Linked DNA regions of Homo sapiens: region 1 is linked to region 2. Evidence: fine-mapped QTL for protein levels in blood plasma. Region 2 holds a variant in brackets. A gene starts in the other region. All regions are shown on their forward strands.

Region 1 (3,016 bases), not on the chromosome of region 2:
CTGTGCCCAGGGGACGGACACATAGACACTGCCTGCGCGTGGGCCTCCTCCCTTCTCCCTCCCGTCAGAGCTGCCAGCTCCACTCACCAGGTATCCTGGCCGCATTGAGGATGGCTGAGGGCAAGAGAAGGAAACGGTTAGGCCGGTGAGGGGCCCCAGGACACAGTGGTGAGGGGCCCTCAACGCCCAGTGAGGAAGGCCCCCAACACCCAGTAAGAAGGGATCCCAGTGCCCAGTGAGGTGGAGGTCCCAGCACCCAGTGAGGAGGGTCCCTCAGCGCCCAGTGAGGAGGGGTCCCAGCACCCCCTGAGGAGGGTCCCTCAGCGCCCAGTGAGGAGGGGTCCCAGTACCCAGTGAGGAGGGTCCCTCAGCGCCCAGCGAGAAGCCCCCAGCACCCAGTGAGAAGGGGTCCAGTGCCCAGTGGGAAGGGGTCCCAGCACCCAGTGAGGAGGGGTCCCCAGCGCCCAGTGAGGAGGGCTCCCCAGCGCCTAGTGAGGAGGGTTCCCCAGCGCCCAGTGAGGAGGGGTCCCCAGCGCCCAGTGAGGAGGGCTCCCCAGCGCCCAGTGAGGAGGGGTCCCCAGCGCCCAGTGACGAGGGGGTCCCAGCGCTCAGTGAGGAGGGGGTCCCAGCGCCCAGTGAGGAGGGGTCCCAGCGCCCAGTGAGCAGGCGTCCCAGCGCCCAGTGAGGAGGGGGTCCCCTTGAGTACCTGGTGGTGAGGAACCTCTAGCCCTCCAGTGCCCAGGGAGACTCTCAAGTCTCTCAACCCCAGGGCCCCTACCGGCGGGGCATTTCCTGGGGCCTGGCCAGGCCCTGGCTGCACAGCTGTGACCCTGCCCTCCCGCAGCTTCCCGTCCAGCCTGCCTTCCGGGGACCAGGACCGGCTCCTCGAGGGAGGCACAGACCTGAGCCCCTCGGCTCTGGACGCTGCTGCCGCTGGTGTGCCCTCCCCTGACCTCCTGCGGCAGGAACAACACAAAACGGTGCTTCCCCAGAGGCAAGCAGCGGAGGACGAGGAGATGGGAGAACACGGAGGCGAGAGGGAGCAGGCGATGGCGACGCCGACGGTAACTGGAGACCGAGGCGCGCTGCGTACTTGCTGCGTTTTCTGTTTCATCCTCACAGCCGTAGAAGAAACCGAGGCACAGAGCAGTTAAGGAGCAAGAGATAAACAGAGCAGAAGCGGAAAGGAGATGAGAGAGGCAAGGCCAGGAGGGAGAGAGGGAGGGAGGGAAGGAGGGAAGGAGGGTGGAGGTGAGAGGGAGGAGGGAGGAGCAGCCTCCGGACGTACCTGTCGACGCCAGCAGCAGCAGGGAGGTGAAGGTGCCGAGACAGCCCCCACCCAGGGCTGGGGGCGCTCCAGAAACCACCATGGCTGGTGGGGCGGGGGAGCAGGCAGCAGGCTCGAGAGACCCAGGGCGATGCGGGTCAGGGTGTGTAGGTTCCCTGCAGGTCGCCCCAGGTTTTATCCTGGGAGGCGGAATGCCGTCAGACCAGTCCCCAGGTGGCTCCCGCGGCCACCCCGGCTGTGGGTCCTGGGCAGAGGGCGGGGCTGCGGGGAGGAAGCCAGCCGCTACAGGGCTCTGGGGGGGCTCTAGCTGAGACCCCAGGATGTGGCCTCTGGAAGGGCAGGGGAGGGGGCTTGGGCCCAGAGGTCCCTGACATTAATTGTCCAGGGGCAGAGAAAGGTGCCAGGGCACTGAAAGGAAGGGGTTCCGGGCTGGGGAGGGCCTGGGTTTGGAGAGGCTGAAGTCTGGGGTACTGGGTGTTGGGGGTGGTCCTAGGGCCTTAGGGATCAAGGGGGTGCCCAAAGCTCAGTAACGGCTCCCACCTGCAGGGCCCCAGGCCCCTGTGACTCAGCCCAGAGACCTGGCGCAACCCGGGCTTGGGAATCCCGTTAACCCACTTCCCGAAAGCTGTGAATCAGGTGAGTGGCGACCTTGGTGGCCTCCTGGTGGCCGCCCTCCTGTCGTTCCTGGAGGCGGGGCTCTGCCCTGCGGTTCAGACACCTGACAACTCACCTCACCTGGACTCCTGGGAAGGGGAGGAGCCCATGGGCACCAGGGCTCGGCCAAGCAGGGGGGTTGAGAGAAGAGGGGCCCCGGGAAGGGCTGGGACTCCCAGGATTCAAAGAGCTGCTGGGCTGGGCTGTGGGGGGCCGGGTCCTGGGCTGGGAGTGGATTCTCGGTGCTTCCCCCCAGCGGCTGCCACAGTGGCAACCCGGGGCTGAATCCTGTGAGACCTTCCCTGACTCAGTGCCCTGCAGCGCCCCACACTTGGGACACTCCCACCCAAGCAGGGCAGGCTTCCTCCTCTACAAAGAGGCAGGAGCCTGCGCCCCTTCACTCATTCGATCAACAAGCCTCCAGCAGGGCCCTTGCTACCGCCGGGGGTGAATTAAAAACAACCATAGTGTCTGGGTGGGGTGGCTTATTCCTGTAATCCCAGCACTTTGGGAGGCCAAGACGGACAGATCATGAGGTCAGGAGTTCAATACCAGTCTGGCCAACATAGTAAAACCCCGTCTCTACTAAAAATACAAAAAAAAAAAAATTAGCCAGGCATGGTGGCAGGCGCCCTTAGTCCCATCTACTTGGGAGGCTGAGGCAGGAGAATCGCTTGAACCTGGGAGGCGGAGGTTGCAGTGAGCTGAGATCACGCCACTGCACTCCAGCCTGGGCGACAGAGCGAGACTCTGTTTCAAAAAAAAAAAAAAAAAACCATAGTAGTGAATATGTATGTAATAAATATATTTATACAAATATAAATATAGTATTTATATAATAGAGCAAACATTTAGGAGTGCCATGCATTGCCTCCTAATCCTCAAATGTCTTTATTATTCCCACTCTGCAGATAAGGAAACTGAGGCAGCTTAGGGCGGTTAAGTGACTTGCCCGAGATTGCTGGGTGAGTGGTGGAGCCGGACCTGCACCCCAACACTGGGGGTGGCTGCTGGGACTGCCCTCATGGAGGCTTCGGGAGCCTGGAGGAGGTGCCTCACCCTGCCTGGGGTGAG
Region 2 (2,500 bases):
CTGTTTAATTATTTGAATTCTTTGGGTTAGGCAGACATAACCTAAAGAAGCGTTGGAATTTTCTTTCTCAGTATTTCGGAGACTACGGTGGACTAATCTCTTTTTCCAGATTCTGAAATATTTTAATATCAGAAAAAGTGATTTTAGGTCAGATGTGGTGGCTCATGCCTGTAATCCCAGCACTTTGGGAGGCCGAGGCAGGTGGATCACCTGAGGTCAGGAGTTCCAGACCAGCCTGACCAACATGGAGAAACCCCATCTCTACTAAAAATAAAAAATAGCCAGGCATGCTGGTGCATGCCTGTAATCCCAGCTACTCAGGGGGCTGAGGCAGGAGAATTGCCTGAACCCAGGAGGTGGGGGTTGCAATGAGCCAAGATCACGCCATTGCACTCCAGCCTGGGCAACAAGAGCGAAACTCTATCTCAAAAAAAAAAAAAAAATAGCAAAAGCTATTGTATGCCTGATGTGGTGGCTCACACCTGTAATCCCAGCACTTTGGGAGGCTGAGGCAGGCAGATCACTTGACATCAGGAGTTCAAGACCAGCCTGGCCAACATGGCGAAACCCCGTCTCTACTAAAAATACAAAAAATTAGCCAGTCATGGTGGCACGCACCTGTAGTCCCAGCTACTCGGGTGGCTGAGGCATGAGAATTGCTTGAACCTGGGAGACAGAGGTTGCAGTGAGTCAAGACCATGCCACTGCACTCCAGTGTGGACGACAGAGTGAGACTCTGTCTGTAAAAAAAAAAAATAATAATAATAGAATAAGTGATTTTATTGTCTGTTGGGATTTTATTGTCCGTTAGGTCAGTGGATATGTGTGTATGTGTTTTTCTTTTTCTTTGAACTCACAGTAACCAAAATATCCACTGAGGATGATGGATTGGTGCGGAACATTGATGGAATAGGTGATCAGGAAGTTATCAAACCTGAAAATGGAGAGCATCAAGATAGTACCCTCAAAGAGGATGTTCCAGAACAGGGAAAGGATGATGTCCGGGAGGTTAAAGTAGAGCAGAACAGTGAACCATGTGCCGGCTCTAGTTCTGAATCTGATCTCCAGGTAATGTGTGAAGTACGAGCCATCAAGAAATAAGACTGGGCCAGGCGCGGTGGCTCATGCCCATAATCCCAGCACTTTGGGAGGCTGAGGTGGCGGATCACCTGAGGTCACGGGTTTGAGACCAGCCTTGGCAACATGGGTAAACCTCATCTCTACTAAAATTACAAAAACTAGCCAGGCATGGTGGCACATGCCTGTAATCCCAGCTACTCAGGAGGCTGAGGCAGGAGAATTGCTTGAACCCAGGAGGCGGAGGTTACAGTGATCCGAGATCATGCCACTGCACTCTAGCCTGGGCAACAGAATGAGATTCCGTCTCAAAAAAAAAAAAGAAAACTGAAGTGGAATTAATTCTGTAAACTTATGGCTTTGGATTTCAATTTTATCCTTTGCCTAAAGAAATCTC[T/G]TTACAAAATCTAAACTATGAAAACTATGGTAGTTTAAAAAACATGCTTCAAAACTTAATTTTATTTCAGACAGTGTTTAAGAATGAAAGCCTCAACGCAGAATCAAAATCTGGCTGCAAACTTCAGGAGCTTAAAGCTAAGCAGCTTATAAAGAAAGACACTGCCACCTATTGGCCCCTGAACTGGCGTAGCAAGTTGTGTACCTGCCAAGACTGTATGGTAAAGTATCTGATTGTGCTCAGTGTTAGCATGTTTTGTGTACTGGTGCCCCAAAATAAGAACACCTGGGGAAAACATTCAATTTTTGTACCAGAGGAAGAAAGGAAAATAAAAAGAACACCTGAACAATATATTTATGAAATTAATGTTTAGGAGACCCTCCAAATTTTTACATTAAGCAAATTTATGACATAGTACTTACAGTTGGAATGTTTGTGGAAGAAATGGATAATTATGCAGTATTTTAAATTTACTTATTTTAATTTTAGTTTACTTATCTTTGTTATATCAAAGTTGCTTGGAAACACTGGTTGAAAGTTATAGTAAATTGGCCAGGTGCTTTGGCTCACGCCTGTAATCCCAGCACTCTGGGAGGCCAAGTTAGGTCTCGATCACCTGAGGTCAGGAGTTCGAGACCAGCCTGACCAACATGGTGAAATCCTGTCTGTACTAAAAATACAAAATTAGCTGGGTGTGGTGGCACATGCCTGTAATCCCAGCTCCTTGGGAGGCCAAGGCAGGAGAATCGCTTGAACCCAGAAGGCGGAGGTTGCAATGAGTCGAGATCATGCCATTGCACTCCAGCCTGGGCAACGAGTGAAACTCCATCTCAAAAAAAAAAAAAGTTAACAGTAAATCAATGGTTTTTAAATAAAGATCTCATAGACCATATGACATCTGGGAAATTGGGAGATTTCTGAAAGAAATTTAGGCAAAAAGAATAAATCCTTCTAGCAATTCTGTGTTAAAGACGCTCCAGTTTTTCTAGGTCTTAATATAAAAAAATTACATTTTTAGTGATTCTC

Which allele goes with the higher level. Alleles are on the strand shown, and positions count from the first base shown. The strength of an association depends on the size of the effect and on how common the allele is.
For the plasma level of the protein whose gene starts at base 1,436 in region 1, T is the low allele of the variant in region 2 and G is the other (weak association).

The links. A credible set is the group of variants that fine-mapping cannot tell apart. PIP is the chance, under the fine-mapping model, that this variant and not a neighbour inherited with it causes the effect. The UK Biobank Pharma Proteomics Project read protein levels with antibody pairs (Olink). The fine-mapping took linkage between variants from a reference panel, not from the people measured, so its PIPs are less certain.
Region 1: it holds the start of PRSS22, and the variant in region 2 is the best candidate, but not a certain one, in a credible set for the plasma level of the PRSS22 protein (UK Biobank, PIP 0.85).

Annotation. Positions count from the first base shown.
Region 1 is chr16:2,856,735-2,859,750 of GRCh38, forward strand. PRSS22 (serine protease 22) reads right to left here and starts at 1,436. Exons shown (of 6, transcript NM_022119.4): 1 at 1,289-1,436; 2 at 88-114. The coding sequence starts at 1,370. RefSeq lists enhancers at 821-1,421, 1,422-2,022, 2,023-2,622.
Region 2 is chr14:93,217,668-93,220,167 of GRCh38, forward strand. UBR7 (ubiquitin protein ligase E3 component n-recognin 7) reads left to right here. Exons shown (of 11, transcript NM_175748.4): 7 at 860-1,068; 8 at 1,545-1,694. Among named protein-coding and RNA genes, the nearest start is that of UBR7, 12 kb to the left of the region's middle. The variant T/G (reference allele first, on the strand shown) is at 1,475.